Homo sapiens: one gene and its partners. The protein of the gene in region 2 purifies or fractionates together with the protein of the main gene of each other region. This does not show direct contact. Each region holds a gene or a part of one and is shown on either strand. Other genes may lie near its edges.

Region 1 (4,916 bases), on a different chromosome or scaffold from region 2:
CCCCACCGTCAGTTCTGCTGAGGCCTCGGCTAGAGAAGAGGAACCGAATCTGCAGCCAGGGGCCTGGGGTCAAGGACATGGGAAGTGCCTGACGTGGCCACCGGGGAATTGGCATGTGACAGCGGGTGGATGGTGGGTGTGGGAGGGTCACAGGAGGGCCTCCTGTACCCGGGCCTGCCGCTATGTTCTGCAGGGAGCCCACCCAGGCCCTGTGCTGGGCCTCACACCATCCGAGGGGGCTTCTCACAGTCTTGGGAGGCTGGCTGAGACCTGAGTCCTGTGGGGCAGCACCCACTGTGGCTGGGTCAGGCCCATGTTGGCCGAGGGTGTGGGAGGAAGCCGGGCCACCCACAGAGTGCCAGTGCCTTCGGCCTCTGAGGAGGGTACCAGCCACAGTGCCCCTAGCCGTTCTGCCCCCCTCGGGCCTGTGCACGCTGGCTGGGTTCCTGGCCATCGTGGAAGAGCACTCCTGAAGTTCTGGGGTGCACCCAGCTCTGAGCCCTGCAGCCCTGTGTCTGGGGTTCGGCCGTGCCCTCTGGGCTGCCTCTCCCTGGTAGGGAGCTGATCCCGGAGATGGGGCTCCAGTCTGGCGGCTCCTGGCTGGGTCTGAGGCCTGGGGCCCGGTCCCCAGGCAGCTGGTGCAGAGGGCTGCAGACAAGTGGGAAGAGCAGGGGATTTTCCGGGTGTCACGCTGGGAGATGTGTCGGAGCACGGGGACCAAAATAGACACGCTTGCTGCAGCTCTTTGGTGTCTGTTCCTTGCACGAGGGGGAGGGCGGGCGTGGGCAGCGGGAGAGCTGGGGTCCCCCGGCTACAGGGTGCAGGAAAGGGGCCCGGCCTGTGGGGAGACGGGCAGGAGCGGCTCTGAGCCTCAGCCCCAGGGCTGCCTCTCTGGCCTCCTTCCAGGCCATTCCTGGAGGGTGAGGGCCAGCCCGGAGGGAGCCCCGGGGGGTGTGGGGCCATGTGCAGCCTGGCGACCTGGACCTCGGACCTCAGGAGTTGGGGACAGGGACACAAAGTTGGCCCCGACCCCGGCTCCCACGTGGCCGCTGCTGGCTGCACGTCCTCCAGGCACGGCCAGGAGCTCACCGTCATGGAATGCGTGAAACCCAAACCCAGCCTGGTGGAAAATCTGTTTTTAATTTTGGGCCAGTGTCGCTGGGAGCCTGGGCCGAGTGTGCTATGGGTAGGGGCTGGGGCCACGTGTCCAGCTTGGCCGCATGGGGGGCTGAGGCCTAGCCAAAGACTGTGACCCTGGACCCCCCACTTGTGCAAGGGGACCCACGAGGCAAAGGTAGGGGGACCCACTTCCCAGTGGCGGGCCCCTGACATGGGGGTGGTGGTAGTGGCTCGCACACGCCGAGCCCACCCTGGCCTCCCCAAACAAGTCTGGGCCCTAGGGATCCCGCCCCTTTCCTGACCCTGGCCCAGGACACCTGGGGGGTTCTCACAGTGCTGGGGGCCAGAACCCCTCGGTCTGCACTGGGGTGTGGGACCCCAGCCAGCCTCTCAGACACCCCCAAACCTTGTTGCTTCCTCTGGAGGAGGGGCCTTGGGAGTTCCAGGGCTGGAGTTCAGCATCCGTGGAGGCAGGTGGGGGTCACTCCCCTCCCACTCCCACCTCTCGCCTGCCACGTCCTCCCGGAGCCCCGTGCTGCTGCCATACGCACAGGCTCAGGCCAGGGCCTGGCTGGTCCCTGCTGCCAGTGTATCTTCGGCATGCAGGAGACGTTTGCCGCCTGGACCCTGTGCCAGGCCTTGGCTGACACTGTCCCCGGGCCAAGAGTGCCCTCCCCCACCTGTTGCGGTACCCACGATGCTCCCCACAACGGGAGTTTCAGTGACCGCCTCATTCCTCTTCCTGCCTCCCACAGCCTCCGAGCTCACGGGGCCAGCACTGTGGGCACAGGGGAGCCCCCGACCTAGCGCGGCCGAGCTGTCTGTCCAAGCCTGGGCCCCAGCACCCAGCGCAAGCTGCTGCTAAGATGCCCTGGAAGCTGATGCTCCCAATTAGCCCGGAGCCCAGCCAGGACCACAGCCGTCAGTGTGGGGACTCCGTCCCCATCCAGGAAGCCGGGGGTGACTCTGTCCCCACTGCAGTCAGGCTGTGTGGCCGTTACCATATTGTGTGTCTGTCACATGCCGGCACCTCTGGTGGGGTTCTGGCCCCTCAGTGGCCTCTGTGGAGCCTGTCCCTTTCCCTCCTCCAAGCTGTGTCACTTCCACACGGAGCTGGCACGAGGGGCGGGGCAGGGCTGGAACCCACCTTCTGCCCACCCCTTCTCTGGCCACCGGGGGCTGCTTCTCCTGCCACCCCTGCTCACCGTGCCCCGTGGCTGCACCCCTGGGGCTCGCTGGTCTCTCCCAATGCCTCGGGCAGCCATCATCCTCAGCTGTGGTCACGCTGCCTGGCCTGCCAGCTCACCCGCCCCCGCTGTGTGACTGTGGACTCTGGAACTCCCTGTGCCTAGCAGCGTGGCTCCAGGACACGGGCCCTATGTCTTCGCTTCCCTCCCTGCTCAGGGCAGACCCGCAGCAGTGTCCAGCCGAGGAGCGAGCAGCCGTGGCTGGAATGGCAGGGTGGTGGGATCGTGGCCACTGCCTGTGGCTGGGGCTGGAGGCTGCATCGGGCCAAACTTCTCATCAGAGTCCCTGTGAGCACCCCCCAGTGGGCCAGGGCCTCCTCAGCCCAGCCACGCGCCACGGTAGCCCACAGGTTGGTGGCACAGAGCGGCGTGTGGGTCCGTGGCGCAGGGTAGCGGGGTGGGCAGCTGCTCCCAGGCGTGTGCATGTAGAGCAGCCGCCTGTGTGTGTGTGGGGGGGGACGTGTGTTCCATAGGCCGGCCGTGACTTGCTGTGCACCCTCCCGAGTGGCATGCTTCCTCACACGCTGCCAGGCCCAGGTCCTGCCACCAGGTGCTCCGGGAGCCACCAGGATGCCCAGCAGCAGCCACCTGTGCAGGTGGCAGGCAGTGTGCCCTGCCCTGCTGTCATGCATGGCCCTCCCACCTTGGCAGCCTGGTGTGGTGTGGCCTGTGCTGGCGCTGAGCCTGGCATTGCGTTGGGGGGTGCCTGTGTCTGTGTGGCTGATGGGAGTCACGTCCAGACAGGGCCTGGAGGCAGAGTGGGCATGGCCAGGAGGCCGCGGCAGGCGTGGGGCACAGGCCTCACAGCTGCTCGTGCACGTCGTCTGCTCAAGTGCCCCGTGGGCCGTCCTAAGGCCTTGTGGCTCACTGGGCCCTCCCTTCTCCAAGCAGGGCTGGGTTGGGGCCACCCACCTGTGCAGGCAGCCAGGTCAGGTTGGGGGTCTCGCCTTACAAGTGCGGAGCCAGCCGAGGTTCACACAGAGCAAAGGCTGCAGCACCGGGTTTGGGCCTGGGTCTCTAATATCCTGGGGACATCCTGGAGGAGATGGCCTGTGTATGGGGACAATGGGGCTTCCCTGAAGGGGAAGGCTCCAGGCCCAGGGACAGCATATGCCTGGGTGTAGAGGCCACAGAGCCCTGCCCCGAGCCACACCCCAGCCCTGCCCGCTCCTCACCAGCCAGTGCCCCAGGCATCCCTGCCAGGCCAGGGAGGTCTTGCTCTGGCCCAGGGTATACTGGGATCCTATCGGTAGCAACCTGATCTGGGACAGAGTAAGGCTTCAGGCCCCGGCTCTCTGGCTGGCTGGGTGTTTCCAGAGTTGGTGGGGTTTTGGGGGCTGCATTTTGGGGGCTGCGGGGCAGTCGGGGGAGTCTGGGCTCACGGTGGGAGGGGGCATCCCCCATGGATGCCGTCTGTGGCTGTGGGGCTGCAGGGGCTTGGAGAAGGAGGGGGTGGCCCAGGGCCGAGACCAGGAGCCCTAGGGTGGGGGCAGGGGGACTGAGGCTGCAGGAGGGGGTCGCCCCCAGCCCCCTTGGCACATGTGTGGCAGTTGAGTCCTCTCCGTGTGCTCCGCGGAACCCAGCGTGCAGTTTTCGCCTCGCCTGACCGAGCCCTTACATCACTTCCACCACAGACGGAAAATTCCATTTGGTCAGAGCCCAGCTGCTGATCAGACAGTTCCCATTCTTTCTCTGAATGGGCCAGGGAGGGGCGGAGGGGCCGCCAGCCCGGTGGAGAGAGGTGGCTGGGCCACCGTAGGAATGCCGCTGGCCCGGTGCCCCGCAGGAGACCGTCTGCTGGGAATCTGGCTTCGGGAAGTGGGTGCAGAGGCCAGGCTGGCCACGGCACGCTCCCCGCAGACAGCTGGGCTCAGGCCTGGCGCGTTGGGTGCCGGGGCTCTGACGTGGGATGAAGCAGCTGCCCGGTTTGCTGAGCACCCTGACACCCAGGCTCTGCATGCTCGCAGTGGTGGGCTGGGACCCGGGCAGCCCAAGTGGGCTCCCTTTGAGGGAGGCGCCATCTCCTTCCTCAGTTGGGGGAAGCCAAGTGAGGCTGTCCTGGCAGGGGCCCCGAAGCCTGGCCTCTGGCCCCCAGGGGCTGAGGAGCGAGGCTCCGTTTGCAGCTGGCCCCATCCAGGCAAGAACAAGAGAAAGCTGCCTCAGCCAATCGCGGTGCTCACACCTGTAATCCAGCACTTTGGGAGGCCGAGGCAGGTGGATTGCTTGAGCCCAGAAGTTCAAGACCAGCCTGGGCAACATAGCCAGACCCTGTCTTTACAAAAAATTTTTTTAAAAATTAGGGCAGAGGCCAAGCACAGTGACTCATGCCTGTAATCCCAGCACTTTGGGGGACCGAGATGGCAGATCACCTAAGGTCAGGAGTTCAAGACCAGGCTGGCCAACGTGGTGAACTCCCCGTCTCTACTAAAAATACAAAAATTAGCCAAGTGTGTTGGTGCATGCCTCTAGTCCCAGCTACTCAGGAGGCTAAGGTAGGAGAATCACTTGAACCTGAGAGGTGGAGGTTGCAGTGAGCCGAGATCATGCCAC
Region 2 (4,916 bases):
CAACCTGCACTGGAATCTACTCTGCTGCTTCCCAGCTGTGTGATCTTGGGCAAGTTAGTTAACATTGCTAAAGCTCAGTTTCCTTATCTTGAAATGAAGATGATAACATTCCTTTCTCCTAGACTGGATATGGGAGTTACATAAACTAATGCAAGAAAAGCCAGACCCTAGGACACAGAAATCATAGTAGCAGCAGCAGTAGTTTAAGTTACTAGACACTGATTTTAGGGTTTGGGGAAGTTTATCATTAGAAGAAAAAAAATACAAACATTCACGATGAGAATTCTACAGAGGTCCAGCCCTAGCCTGCCCTTTCTCCATGCAGGGCCGTTCCCACATGCACCTCCCTGGATCCCCCCATCACGACCCCATATGAAGCTGTAAAGCCAATTCTGTCCTTGTCAGCCACCTCTTTCCCTCTCCCATCAGATAACCTGTCCCCCTGCTTTTGTGGGAAAAGAATCTCTACACAACTTCATTCCCTCCAGGCCCCAGAGAAAAGGCACCCTGGCCCCTGCTCCAAGGCCCACTGCCTGCTCTGTCAAGGCAGGGTGGAGAGGGAGTTCCTTAAACACGAATAACAAGGTAAGGTGGTGCTATCCCCAGCAATGAGCACCAGTCTCTCTGTGCCTGCTGCTCACTGCATGCAAAAATGCACATATCTCATTGTCTTACCTGCTTCACCCTGTGACAATGTGAAGCAATTCTTCCTTCCCTTCCTAAACCCTGGTTTCCCATTCTAGAAGGTACCACCAGAGCCTTCTCCAGCCCTGCTCCCTGAGCACACCATTTCTGGGGTATGCACAAGCCCCTCCTGGGGGTCTCCCACTAGTCCCTGACTCTTTGCCCTTCTGGTTCTCCAACAACCTCTGCAGCTCCATCTCCATCACCTCCTCTCTCTCCCAAAACCCAGCCCTTCCCAGTCTGCCTCCAAGGCCCTCATCTCACTGTACCGCCACCATCAGCCGCCCACCATCCTTTCCCCACCGAAACCAAGCTCATCACTCACGTCTTCTCAGTTGGGGACCTCTGAGCTTCCCTGTCACTCACCCTGGAACTCATCATCTTCGCCTCTTCCTCAATGTCATTCTCCATCCAGACCCCCTCCCCCAGGCTCCTGGCACCTCAGGCCCGTCCCACTAGAGCCTGCCTCGCTGCATTCTGTGTGGGGTGGGTATTGACCTGATATTCTCTGCGGCCCAGGGAAGGAGCGAATATTGAAGGAGAGGCCCAGTTGTGTTGGATCGGGGCTCAGGCTGACTTTAGCCAGTCACCCAAGCACGGCCATCAGAGTACTAAAGCCCTTCTGTAACTGTTGGGGATCCCCTGAGACCCTCACACCTCTCCATGATCTAAAGCAGTGAAGCCTAGCATAGCAGGGGCCTCCTGGCCCAGTCCTGGTGCTCAGTCTGATTGGTGGGTCATTAAACATTCTTTTTTTTCCCCCTGAGATAGAGTCTCTCTCTGTTGCCCAGGCTGGAGTGCAGTGGCGCGATCTCGGCTTGGAGCAGAAGAATAGGGTGTGGAGGCAGGGAATCTACGGCCGTTTCACGCTGACTTCCTAGAACTAAATTGAAAGGAAAACCCTAACTTTCCACCCCTGAGTAACAAAAGGACCAAAGACTACTCCCTTTGCAAACACCCACCTTTCGGCAGATGGGAAATTGAAAGTGCCTCTAATTGGTTGCTTTTTGCAACCAATCAGACATTTGCATAGGACAACAACTTTGTAACTTCACTTCAGCCTCTGATTGGCTGCTTTCTGCAACCAATCAGACGGATTGTGGGCCACCACTTCATTTACATGAGGTGAACACAAAGTGGCCAATGGGAAACCTCTAGGGGTGATTTGGACCCAAGAAGATTCTGGAACTGGGCCCTTGAGCAGCTGTTCAGGCTTGCTCCCACCCTGTGGAGTGTACTTCCATTTTCAATAAAATTTTGCTTTTGTTGCTTCATTCTTTCCTTGCTTCGTTTGTGCATTTTGTCCAGTTCTTTGTTCAAAACACAAAGTACGTGGACACCCTCCGCCGGTAACAGGCTCACTGCAACCTCTGTCTCTTGCGTTCAATCGATCCTCATGCCTCAGCCTCCCGAGTAGCTAGGATTACAGGTGCCTACCACCATCCCCAGCTAATTCTTCTATTTTTCGTAGAGACAGGGTTTTGCCACGTTGGCCAGGCTGGTCTCAAACTCCTAAGCTCAAGTGATCCACTCACCTTGGCCTCTCAAAATGCTGGGATTACAGGTGTGAGCCACAGCACCCGGCAAGGGTTGTTAAACATTCTGAGTATCACCCCTGTTAGGAGCACATAAAGATAGATGCCTGGAGTAGGCTTCATATTAACCCAGCATGATCACTTTATCATTTTTAACTTATGTGCTGCCCAAATTTCGGCAAAGGTACTGTTAATATCAAGACACTAATTCTGACATAACATCAGCAAAAAAGATACTCACACTTGAATGCCTCCTGGTGAACCACACAGCCTTAATACTAGTGTGGCCTGAATTCAGGCCTCTCTTGAAGTTCAAATTGAAATTCTTACCCATAGTTGAAAATACTGTAATATGAAGGGGGGTTTTCATTCGGAAGCAGACTGTTAGTTCCAGGACTCTCAGCGACCGCAGAAGCTGAAGATTCAGGAAAGTAAGGTGGTGGAGGGGGTGGAAATATTATTACCGAGTCACCTAAGGCAAAACAATATTTAGTTGACAACAGGTGGGTAATAAATGGAAGCAAATTAGCAAAAGCAAAATTAATTATATATTTGGCCCATCTATATAAAAGGTCAACACACCTGCTGCTAACTCCAAAATTTAAAAGTAAGCCCATTAAATGTATAGAGATAGAAAAGTAGACTAGGTTACCAGGGGCTAGGAGGGGTTCGGGAGGAGGAAGGGAGTGGGAATTGCTGTTTGGTGAGTACAGAGTTGCTGTTGGGGATAATGGAAGAGTTCCAGAAATTGATGATGATAATGGTTGAACAACATTGTGACTGTATTCAATGCCACTAAACCATTTAAAAACGGTTTGGCTGGGTGCAGTGGCTCACACCTATAATCCCACCACTTCGGGAAGCTGAGGAGGAAGGATCGCTTGAGCCCAGGAGTTGGAGACCAGCCTGGGCAACACAGCGCTATCTCATCTCAAAAAAATTAAAAGAAAAAATTTAGCCAGATGTGGGAGTACACGCCTGCAGTCCCAGCTACTCGGAAGGCTGAGATAGGAGGACTGCTTGAGCCCAGGAGTTCTAGGCTGCAGTGAACTATGATTGTACCACTGCACTCCAGCCTGGGTGACAGAGCAAGACCCTGTCTTAAAAAAAAAAAAAAAGCCAGGCGTGGTGGCTCACGCCTGTAATCCCAGCATTTTGGAAGGCCGAAGCGGGTGGATCACTTGAGGTCAGGAGTTCAAGACCAGCCTGGCCAACACGGCGAAACCCTGTCTCTACTAAAAATACAAAGAAAAAACAATCAGGCAGGCGTGGTGGCAGGCGCCTGTAATCCCAGCTATTCGGGAGGCTGAGGCAGGAGAATTGCTTGAACCCGGGAGGCAGAGGTTGTGGTGAGCCAGGATCATGCCACTGCACTCCAGCCTGGGTGACAGAGTGAGATTCTGTTTCAAAACAAAACAAAACGAAACAAAAAGCAGTTTAAATTGTTTATGCTTTATATATATATATATATATATATTTTTTTTTTTTTTTTACCACAAATTTTTTAAAAGTAGGCCTACATTTCAGAATCCAGAGTGCTGACAATTATGGTATGAAAGCAGGTCTATATTTTGTAGCAAGTCTAAGACCAAGCCTTTTTGTGAATTGTTTGCTAACAAGCTCCTTTCCCTCCTCTGGGGTGTCTACTGCTGAAAAAGCTTTTCTCGTTTTCAGCCTACAACTTTAATTCACAAGTTAGCTGTTGGCTAAAGTGCCTTGTTCCTCAAATGTAGTTTCAGCCCCTGAGCAAATGACAGTAAGCCATATTACAGCCCCTAACTGTTATTTACCAAAATTTCACCCATACAGATGAAGGTTGAACCCAAAGAAGTTTGGTTTTTGCATTTCTGTGGCTACTGTTCACTCCAGAATACATCCTCATGTTTTGAGGAGAAACTAGGGACCAGATGCAAACTCTAATTTGTATTCCGATTCCAATATAAAATGCACCACACAAGTGGACCAGAACAGTGTAGAGCTCTGGCAGCACCACTGCTGGGGGCCTGGTGAAAGCCTCTGAGAAGCTGGCAATAGCAATAACAGTTCAGAAAAAATGAAGAAGATGGGGCTTTACTTCCCTGTAGTGGTTCACACTCCTAGCATGTCTGATGCTTGCTTAGGGTGGCATAGGATTCTTTAAAGTGATGGGGGTTCCAACCTGAACAAGCTAGGCGACCTCCTTGACCTCAGCCGCCACAGCTGTAAACTGCAGGCCAGGCAGTTCTTGCATCACAGGACAGATAGAAGGAAGGACTAGATGGACTGATTTGCATCTGGCAGTGAACACAGTGCGGAGCACAGAGCCAACTCTCTCAGCTCAACACCAGCCGAGGGCACTGATTTGCATGATGAAGAAACACCACAGAGGCAATTGGCCACTGGCTCCACTCTCTACCCTTCATGAGCCACAGCAGCCTCAATCATTTCCCAGAGGGAATTTAGCCCTTCAGAAAATGCATTAATTCCATCTCCCCTTCCTTCTCCAAGGAGAAGGCAATGAGAGTTTAAAATACGTTTTGCTAATCTAAAGGTGAGAAAGCATAATAGCGGTCCTGAGATTCTCATTTACTTTTTTAGAAGGTCTTGGTAGGTTAGAGGAATTGGGGTTGTGTTCACTTCCATTACACACTGTAGAATAAAGAACCTGTGAAGTAACCCTTGAGGGCAGGCCAATCACCTCTCAAAAACACACAAGGA
Region 3 (4,916 bases), 6.9 Mb from region 2:
AGGTTAAGTGATTTGCCCCACGTCACAAGCTAGTATGAGAGCTGAAACTTGAACCCAGGTCTTCTGATTCCAAAACTATTATTCTTTCAACTATACTTCTTTACCTCAATGAAAATGACCTGTATTCCAATCAAAAAAGACCAGCTTTTTAAAACTGAGAATATGTAGACCAAAGGAAGCTAGTACATTAGGCAAAAAGAAAGATAAATTCTTTAAATGTAATCCAGTGGTTTTCCAAACACTGGATCACTTCTAAATGAGGTAACCCACATCAAGCTCAAATAACACAGTGGTGGACCTCAAAAACTGTTAGCCAGTGTCATCAGGCCTCATTGCCCTATGAGTTTGTAAAATAGTAAGTATTACTATTTGTATCAGGAAAAAAAAAAAAAGCAAGCTTATCAGTTACAGGGGAAAAAATATGTAACCTCTTTGTATTTTTCCTAGTAGAATCACACTTGAAATTTCCTTTGTTGGTTCTCTCCCCTACCCAGTTCCTCAATGTTTCTCTCATGAAAAGAACACCCCAAGTGGCAAAATATCTACACTGGTGAAAAAACTATAAACTATATCTAGAGCAGAGAAGAACAAGAAGGAGAAAAAAATAAAACTTTCATGTGGAAAGAAGAAAAGAACACGGTGCTGTTAATAAGAAAGGATAAGCCCAGTGCTTACAATCTTAAGAAACATTAAGAGACAGAGAGGCAGACACACAAGCAAGAAGTGTTTTTGCTTTGTTTTTTTTTGTGTTTTTTCTGATGGAGTCTCGCTCCGTTGCCCAGGCTGGAGTGCAGTGGCACGATCTCAGCTCACTGCAAGCTCCGCCTCCCGGGTTCATGCCATTCTCCTGCCTCAGCCTCCTGAGTAGCTGGGACTACAGGCGCCCGCCACCATGCCCGGCTAATTTTTTGTATTTTTAGTAGAGACGGGGTTTCGCCGTATAAGCCAGGATGGTCTCGATCTCATGACCTCATGATCTGCCCGCCTCGGCCTCCCAAAGAGCTGGGATTACAGGAGTGACCCACCGCGCCCGGCCGCTTTGTTTTTTTAAAGCAAATCTTTTGGATTTCCTAGCTTAAAGGGTACTAACTGTGTGGCAAAAGTAAACCCAATACTCTTATCTGATCTTTCCCCAATCAGGCCACTGTTGGCTTCAAAACACTATGTTACATACAACTTTAGTGAAAGTATATTTAAACAGTTTTCTGAAAAACAAACTCTATAAAAAAAACTAAAAGGGTACAGTTAATGTGTGACCCAAATGACAATATTAGCTACCGAAAGGAAAATACTGAACTATGATAAAATGATTGAAGTAGACTTGACCTTTTCAATCAAGTTGGATTCCTTATTTACAAGTTGTGTGAGTTTCTGCAGATTTGCATCTACCGTTTCTTGTCCAGCTGGAGAGATGCCTAAGAAGCCAGGACAGAAATCAGAGAAAGACAGGAAATTTTTAAAGCCTTTAAAGCTATTTAGATTGAAAGAATTTTGAGTCTACCCACCCTGTCCAGTGCCCCACCCTCCCCAAAAAAGGCAAAGAGGAAAACCATTCTGGGTTTAAAGGCGAAGAGAGGGATTCGAATGCTCTAAAACTAAACCCTGAGCAAAACGGACAAAAATTTATCCACTAAGTAGACACTGCTAACCAAGTGTTCTGCAATTGGCCACAATAATTAGTTTTTTTTTTTTTTTGAAAAAAAAAGCACAGTAGTCCTCATTTCCTTCTCAAGTTTAAGCTATTCCTTTCTCACACCCATTTCAAATAGGTCTTTGGTCACAACTATCTGGATAGTTTTCTAAGGCAGTAACTCCCAAAAAGTTGCCCACCAGACATCCAAAGTATTCAGAAGAACTTAAAAATACAAATTCCTAGGATTGATGCCTAAAAGATTCTAATTTAGTAAGTCTGGAATAGGACCCAAGATTTTTTATCTGTCAAATAATCAGGTTTGCTAACCACTGCTCCCAAGTTAACACGGTTGAACATTACTTAATTTCATGACTCCCAAACTACTAACCCCTTCCTGTATACAGAATACATAACCCACCAAAAAATAATAAACTGTCCACCTAAGCCAGCTATCTTTATAACCTGTTTCTTAAAAGGACAATTTCAGCCAACCATCCCAATAGAAATTTAGTATCTGAATCACTTAAGCACAAGGCTCCACTCTCTCAATGAAGCACATCCTAAGTAACAGGTGCCCTCTATTTACTATACTTCCATTCTGATGCAATCAGTTTTCAAGTAGTGGAATCATGGCAGTGTACCTCACCAAAATCAATCTGCTGCTGATTTCTGTTCATGCAGGAAAATGCTAGAAGCAGCAGGTAAAAATCATTTAAAGTAATTGTCCATTTGCATTAGGATAAATACTGTTTTTCAGCAAAGACTTAATACCTGTGGTTTTAACCTTTTAGAAGAAAATGACCCACTTCAAAGGGGTAATATTTAAAGAACAAGAAGAAGAAACGTAAAAATCCAGCGGAATAGATAAAAGGCAAATATCTATTTATCTATTTAAATAAGAACTAACATGAGAATAAAAATGAAGTCGGAAAAACACAAATCCTTGAAGTGCTATAAACCACTATTTAAAGACAATACACAAACTTCTAAAATTAAAATAAGTAGTGGATTTTGCTTATACATACATAGGAGAATATGCAAACAAACATTAGCTGAAAAAGAGCCAGCTTACCTCCAAGACTAAGCCTAAAATAACTGCTCAGGATGTCATCACAAAAGCGACAGAGGTTGGAGAGCTGTTTCAGATGTTCTTGTAGCTGAACTTTAGGAAACCGTACTTTGTAAAGAGGTGCAAGAAAACCAAAAACATAGGCATCCAAGGTAGAAGGCCTAGAAATAAATTAAGGATTTTTAAAGCACATAAGACAATATTAACTGAAGGCCGGGTGTGGTGGCTCATGCCTGTAATCCCAGTACTTTGGGAGATCAAGCGGGGGCAGATCACTTGAGGTCAGGAGTTCCAGATAAGCCTGGCCAACATGGTGAAACCCTGTCTCTACTAAAAATACAAAAGAAGTCGGGCGTGGTGGTGGGCACCTGTAAACCCAGCTACTTGGGAGGTTGAGGCAGGAGAATTGCTTGAACCCAGGAGGCGGAGGTTGCAATGAGCCAAGATCATGCCACTGCACTCTAGCCTGGGCAACAAGAGCAAGACTCCATCTCAAAAAAAAAAAAAAAAAAAAATTAAATTAAGGATTTTTTTAAGCACATAAGAAAATACTAACTTGGGATGGTGTTTAATTTTTTTTTCAAAATTCTCAATTCTGAATTACACAGTATAGTCTCTTAAAAGGTTTACTATCCATTTCAGTTTACAAAAATTATGCAACCAAGGTTTTACTCATTGAGTAGCTTAGACTCTAGGAGAAAATGAAATTGTCTTTATAGATTCATTTTTACTCACAAATGTTAGACTGGAGGCAGAGTGGGAACAGTCTGAGATGTTTTAAATTCACATATGCAGCCTATTAAGTCAATGTTAGATTATCACTGGTAGAAAAAGTTTCCTATAATAAAAGCCCATTAAATTTTTTTCTTGTTTGTTTTGGTTTTTTGACATGGAGTTTCACTCTTGTCACCCAGGCTGGAGTGCAGTGGCGTGATCTCAGCTCACTGCAACCTCCACCTCCCAGGTTCAAGCGATTCTCCTGCCTCAGCCTCCCAAGTAGCTGGGATTACAGGTGCCCACCACCACACGCAGCTAATTTTTTGTATTTTTAGTAGAGATGGGGTTTCGCCATGTTGGGCAGGTTGGTCTTGAACTTCTGGCCTCGGGTGATCTGCCCAACTCGGCCTCCCAAAGTGCTGTGATTACAGGTATGAGCCACCACACCGGCCTAAATCTTGTTTTTTTTAAGTAAAAAACTCATCTTTTGGGGAGATAAGAGGACTTGCTTTAAATAGCTGCTCACTGAATATATGTGCACAAAATACCAAAATGATTTTTAAGGGAATACTCACGTATCTCCAAAGAAAAACTGAGATGTTCCCAATCTGTTTGATAGAAGATTTAGGCACTCCTTGGCATCTCTGTATATCTAATAAGGATGAAATTATATCTCAAAAGTAGAAAAGATACTCTAAAACTACTTTTGAGGAAGGCATCTCTAGGTAAACTCAAGTCTGCATTTTATCTTGTCCTTTCTCTCTAGGGCCCTTGCTTGAAGAATAATCCATACTATACCTGTGCTTCCACTTCTCGGAGGTGGTAGAGGGGAGGCTGTCCTCTGGTCAGGAGAATCCTATTCAGTGCTCCCTTAGACATTCTTCCAGGCAGGATCAAACTCAAAGGAAAAGGAATTTGTGAAGCAAACCATGGCTTTGTCACAGTAAAGTAATTGTCACTCTCAACCCAGAATGTGTGAAGCTGCAAAAGAAGAGAAAAAACACTACAAGGATGTTCTTTTATTAAATGAAAGATCACTCAATCAACATGAGAGTTTTTCATAAATATCTTTATATGAAGTGTCTTCATACAAATTTTCCAGTTAGAATGACTCAGGATAAAACAAGATTATTTTAAATGTGTGAGTTTTGTTGACTGCTATCTTCCAAACACCCAGAACAAGGCCTGACACATAGCAGGTGTTCAATAAACATTTGTTGAATGAATGAATTACACCCAATTCTATACATGGAGCAAAAAGATCCATCTCCCACAAAGAATTTCCAACATGACATTTTATTTTACTTTGTTGTTTCACATACTAGTTGAATGCCTAACAGAATCCAGTTTCACAGTAATATGAAGGAATTAAGATTAACATATAAGTAAAATTTTCTCTTAAGACTTTTCTCATTGGTTTTTTTCTAAACAGACTATGTACATTTGCAACTAGGCTACTAAAATACTGTAATATTTAAGAACACTCACCACTGCAGG
Region 4 (5,638 bases), on a different chromosome or scaffold from region 2:
CCTTCCTCTCAATGTCTGACTCATTGCAGACAGGTAACAGGTTGCACTTCGAGTGGTTTGCTTCATACTAGCTGTGCTTTTCAAACTTTATGAAATGCTCATCCAGGGTTCTTGTATAAGTGCAATTCTTACTTAGTGGGCTTGGGCAGGCCTGAGATTATTTCTGACAAGCTCCCAAGTGACACTGATGCTGCTGGTCTGTGGCCCACACTTCATAAACGCTTTGATTTTCACAGTAACACTGATGTGACACCAATGCTGCTGGTGTGTGGCCCATACTTCATAACTATTCATAAACTGTTTTGATGTTCACACTGATCTTTTGAGAATTTTTATTCCATTTTACTCATGCTTAAGTCAGATTTATTGATATCCCAGAGTAAATTAACCCATGTTAGTGTGCAGTTCTGCTGGCACACACATGCAGTTGTGTAACCACTACCACCAAAAGCAAGATGTAAAATAGCTCCATCACCCCCACAAGCCTTCTGATGCTCTTTTGTCATCAATTCCCTTCCCGCTAGTCACAACTGGTAACTACTGATTTGTTTTCTGTCCCTATAGTTTTGCCTTTTCCAGAATGTCATTGTTGACAGGTATCAGTAATTCATTCCTTTTTATTGCTAATTACTATCTCACTGTATGAATGCAACACAGGTTGTTTACCAGTTCACCCGTTAAAGAACATTTTGTTTCTGCGCTTGACAGTTATGAATAGAACTGCTATAAACCCTCAAGTAAAAGTTTTGGTGTGAAGATAATTTTCTCAGCAAAAACGCTGACAGGTAATTTTTCTAAGTATTACTTTTTTAAAAAAGTAAAATAGCCTGTAGCCCCAGCTACTCAGGAGGCTGAGGCAGGAGAATAGCTTGAACCCAGGAGGCGGAGGTTGCAGTGAGTTGAGATTGTGCCACTGCATTCCAGCCTGGGCGACAGAGCTAGACTGTCTCAAAGAAAAAAAAAAAAAAAAAAGAAATAAATAAAAAGTAAAATGAAAGCATGTAAGTGTAAGATGACTAGTTCAAGCAACCTCTCTTCAAGTACAGAGTATTCAGAGTAGAGATTAAAAGAGGTTTTCAAGGACAGAGAAAATTTGAAGTTTGAAGGCAGTTCCAAAGGAAGGCAATGATTCTTAATAAGACTGGAAGTTGGAAGTAATATAAAAAGATAAATCAGTTTCAAGATGATTTTACTAAGCAGGCAGCCCTTAATTTACAAATTCTAGATTCATACATATCTTAAACATACAAAATGATATGAGGAGAGGTAAGTTCAGGGTCTGAGTTCCTGGCTGTTGTTGGAACTGATTTCTGTGTAGTGATTCAGAAGATGTGAGACACCCTAATTTACAAGTACAGAGGTATCTTCTTTTCTGCAAACAGCAGTACAACAATAGTTCCTCTTACGCAGCTGTGAATGAACAGGATTATTACAATTAATGATATCTCATTTGATTGGCGCCTTAGAGAATTAAGACCTTTCACACCTAATATACAACTTTGTTGTGAAGGCAGATATTTATATTCTCATTTTACTGATGAGAGACTACCCGGAGACGCTATGTCACACCTGAAGGATTAGGTACTTTCTCTGTTAAGTCCAATGTTCCTTCCGTTATTCCATGCTAGGCAGTAATAAGTTCTGTCTTGCCTGAGTAATAAGCTCCAAACCTCGGAACTGCACCCATCTTGAGAAGGAGGAGGGCGCTGTGGTTTTTTCTGATAAGTGCAGCTGGCAGACACTCTATACGCTTAATCACGGGCAAATCCTAGCTAAGCTGCCTACCAAACTAGTCCTTCTTTTCCCCGTTGCCCACGCAGATGGCTGTTGATCTTTTCTGCAACAAATCCAGGAGTTTCTCCTTTTTGTTTTATAATTGCTCCAATAGATGCTTTAGGATTTAACTCTCTGCTTTTTAAAGCAGAATCGCCATCCCAGGTGTGCAACCACGAAAAAATTAGACATCCGTGAGAGACAATGCCCTCCATGGCCCAGTTTCCAGGCAGAGAGAAGCAGCTCTGGGCTGACCGCCAAGGCTCCGGCCCGAGAGGGTCTTTAAGTGGAGTAACCAGTCTTCAAGACCCCGCTCCCAAGCCACCGACGCGCTGACGCTGCAGCCCTGGACCTGCTGGGGGCCTCTTCCTCGGACCCGCATGCTGACAGCGGGACTGGCAACTGGGCAGAGGTCGACCCCGGGTCCGCACAGCACCTCCCGAGACCCAGCTCCCAGCTCCCTCACTTCCGGCTCTCTGGAGGCGGGCCCGGCCAGTGCCGCCGAGGCCAGCGCGGCGAGCTCCTCCCCAGCAGCGGCGGGACGGCCACACCCTGCGCTCCGCGCGGGCTCGGGTGGGGTCTCCGCTCCTGCGCCCTGCGCCCTGCGCGCCGCAGCCGCAACCCCGACGGCGCCCCAAACGCTGTTGCGCCGCGCGCCCCGCCCAGCCCGGCCTCGCGCTGGTCCCGGTCTCGCCCCGCAGCCCTCGATCTCCCGTGACTTCCTCGGCCAGGCCGCCTGCGCCTCTGGGACCATGTTGCGCTGGCTGCGGGACTTCGTGCTGCCCACCGCGGCCTGCCAGGACGCGGAGCAGCCGACGCGCTACGAGACCCTCTTCCAGGCACTGGACCGCAATGGGGACGGAGTGGTGGACATCGGCGAGCTGCAGGAGGGGCTCAGGAACCTGGGCATCCCTCTGGGCCAGGACGCCGAGGAGGTGGGTCGCCGCCGGGGCGCCGCCTGAGCGTAGGGAGGGCTGCGGGCGCTGGGGACACTGCGAGGACCGAGGAGGGCGGCGGCTTGAGGCGTTGCCAGGAGAGGAAGGAGGAACTGTGGCGCCCAGCGCTCCGGTGGCTTCAGAAACTCGGGCGTGGGGCCGCGACCGGCGACCCCGGTAACAGAAGTGGGTCATAATACGAAAGTCTACTGGTATTTGTCCAGATAAAATGAGTGTTGTGGACACTCTGGCCCACGGGCACTGTTAAATTTTTAAGACACTTTTGTCCTGAATCCATCCCAGGTTCTTTGTTTTCTGTTTTAATACCTTGCAGACATGTAATCCGTTTTAGCTGTCAGACTTCAGTGGGTCCCAAGTTTTGTATAAAGGCGCACACATTCGATCTCTTTCGAAGCTGCTTTGTTACAGCAGCTATGTGTATTGTCTACTGTTTGAAAACTGTTTGAAAACCAATCGCGTGTTTCCCCCACTTCCTGTTGAGAAGGAATGGCGGCATTCCATTGTTTAAGACATTCCTAGGTTAATGCCCTAGGTACATAAATTGATCTGAAGGGTTGACTTGACCTGCGACTGAGCAATTTCATTTTCTCTGAGTCATCTTAACTGTGCCCCTGAACTTCTGCCCCTTTAGTAGGGTGGAGATATGTGGAACTTCTCCAACCCTGTTGAAGCGTTCCCTGACACTGGCATTCTCTTATCCAAAGAGGGAAAGTGATTAGGTTACTATGAGGGCCAACAACTGTTATATAGTTATATTTCACTTCTCTTTTAATGTCTTTGGTAGTTATAGGCCTCTTCAGTTTACTGTTTCTTCTAGAGTCAGATTTAGTAAGTTACAATTTTTTTTGAAACTGCCTGTTCTGTCCAAGGTTCATAATACTCACCGATGATTTTATAACACTTCTGACTGAATCTGTAGGTAGGTTCTCTATTTCATTCCTCATATCTATCCTTTTCTCCCCTTCAATCTTGCCAAAGTTTTGTGTATTTTATTCATACTTTGAAGGAACCAACTTTTGGTACTTTGTGCTGATTGTCCCAGAAATGGCCCAGTTGGAGTTCCCCACCATGTCCAATCATTGGCTGGAAGCAGCCCAGGAAAGGGACGACCTTGCTGCAGTGCATCAGCAGATGCCAGGGTTAGAGGCTAGAGAGTGGAAGTCAACTGTGTTCCTCACAGTAGGTGCCTTTGAAGGGAGATCTCAGTGGTACAACTCCATGGTCCCTACAATATACAAAAGCTCTTTGGAGTGCTCAATGATTTTTAAGATTGTAAAGGGATCCTGAGATCAAAAAGCTTGAGAATTGCTGCTGTATCACCATTTTTACGTAACTGCATCATATTCTGTTATATGTTTGTGTCATAGTATATGTTACCAATTCTTTTTAAATCACCTTTTACTTTATTGATAGTTTAAAAACGATTGTAAGTGAAATTGCAATGGATGTCCTTTGTATTCATTTTCTCATTCTGGTCCAGTTACTTTCGTAAGATAAATTTTGAGGAGTGGACATTGCTGAGTCTGAAGGTAACACACATTTTAAACTGGGATACGTATTGCCTTTCGGAAACCTTAGACCCATTTTCACTCTTTTGACTGACAGTGCTTGCTTCTCCACATCCTCGCTCATTCAGGGTATCAGTCTTTGTAAAGTCTCCTATTCTGCAGGTGAAATTCCTTTTCATTTCCTGTCTTAGTCCATTTAGTGTTGCTATAGTGGAATATCTGAGACAGGGTAATTTATAAAGAAAAGACATTTATTTAGCTCACAGTTCCGCAGGCTGGGAAGTTTAAGAAGCGTGGTGCTGGCATCTGCTGGACTCCTGGGGAGGGCTTTCCTGCTGTGTCACAACATGGTGGAAAGTCAAAGTGGAAGTGGACATGTGTGAAGAAGCAAAATCCGAGGGGTGTCCTGGCTTTATAGCAACCCAGCCTCGAGGGAACTGATCCATTACTGAGGGAACTAATTCAGTCTCATGAGAGAGAGAACTCACTCACTACTGCAAGAATGACACCAAGCCATTCATGAGGGATCTGCCTCCGTAACCCTGACACCTCCTGCTAGGTCCCTCCTCCCAACACGGCCACATCAGGGATCAGACTTCAACATGAGTTTTTGTGGGGACAAACAAAACGTAGCACTTGCTTTGCCTTTTGGTTCTATTCACATCCTCCACAGGATTGCATTATGCCTACCCATTTGGTGAGGGCAGTCTTCTTTAATTGGTTTACTGATTCAAATGCTACCCTCCTCCAGAGACATCCTCACAGACACACCCAGAAATCATGTTTTACCAGTTATCTGGGCATCCCTTAGTCCAGACGAGTTGATACATAAAATTAACCATCACACATGGGATAGAATTAGGATTACACAGTCAACCTTTATGGGAGAAAATTTCAGAGGCATGTCAGGGGTTTATGTAATGTCAAGGAGTGAGGACATTGGCTACTTGAGCATAGAAATGAGAACTGTGGGGTGACTCTTCGGTGGAAAGTTTCAAGGTAGTAGTTTGTATCTAAGCCAAATACTCAGCTTGAAGCAAAATCTCTATAAATTTTCATCTGATTTGATCTCATCTCCGTGTTTCCAAGCATTTGTAATGAATTGAGCATTTAGAAGAGAACAAATTTCTGTTTAAGTTTCTTTAGATTTTAGATGGAAAGAATGTAGAAATAAGAGTAGAATGTAGAAATAGGTATAAGGAATATAATAGCTAACCATTACTAAGTGTTCCAGAATTATCCAGGGAAGAGAAAAGAATTCAAGGCAAGTCCTGAGACAAAATTAAGAACCAATTGGAAGTGAAAGCGCTACATTTTTTTTTCTGGTATGACCTTTCTTTTCTGTATGTTCCAAATCTCCTCACTATGAAATTAGTGAAAAATTAAAGTTAAAAATTAGAG

The links.
Region 1: the proteins of TMEM171 (region 2) and TTYH3 purify together in Homo sapiens (affinity purification with mass spectrometry; 3 studies listed by BioGRID and IntAct, with this or other methods). This does not show direct contact.
Region 3: the proteins of TMEM171 (region 2) and MTX3 purify together in Homo sapiens (affinity purification with mass spectrometry; 3 studies listed by BioGRID and IntAct, with this or other methods). This does not show direct contact.
Region 4: the proteins of TMEM171 (region 2) and SLC25A24 purify together in Homo sapiens (affinity purification with mass spectrometry; 3 studies listed by BioGRID and IntAct, with this or other methods). This does not show direct contact.

The regions. Positions count from the first base shown.
Region 1 is NC_000007.14:2,637,588-2,642,503, forward strand, and holds part of TTYH3 (protein tweety homolog 3), read left to right. Parts: intron 1-4,916. UniProt on the Homo sapiens protein: Calcium-independent, swelling-dependent volume-regulated anion channel (VRAC-swell) which plays a pivotal role in the process of regulatory volume decrease (RVD) in the brain through the efflux of anions like chloride and organic osmolytes like glutamate.
Region 2 is NC_000005.10:73,126,165-73,131,080, reverse strand, and holds part of TMEM171 (transmembrane protein 171), read right to left. Parts: intron 2,692-4,916; coding exon 2,550-2,691; intron 1-2,549.
Region 3 is NC_000005.10:79,984,245-79,989,160, forward strand, and holds part of MTX3 (metaxin-3), read right to left. Parts: coding exon 4,908-4,916; intron 4,401-4,907; coding exon 4,218-4,400; intron 4,072-4,217; coding exon 3,995-4,071; intron 2,864-3,994; coding exon 2,706-2,863; intron 1,416-2,705; coding exon 1,327-1,415; intron 1-1,326.
Region 4 is NC_000001.11:108,197,026-108,202,663, reverse strand, and holds the start of SLC25A24 (mitochondrial adenyl nucleotide antiporter SLC25A24), read left to right. Parts: upstream 1-2,320; 5' UTR 2,321-2,525; coding exon 2,526-2,708; intron 2,709-5,638. UniProt on the Homo sapiens protein: Electroneutral antiporter that mediates the transport of adenyl nucleotides through the inner mitochondrial membrane. Originally identified as an ATP-magnesium/inorganic phosphate antiporter, it also acts as a broad specificity adenyl nucleotide antiporter.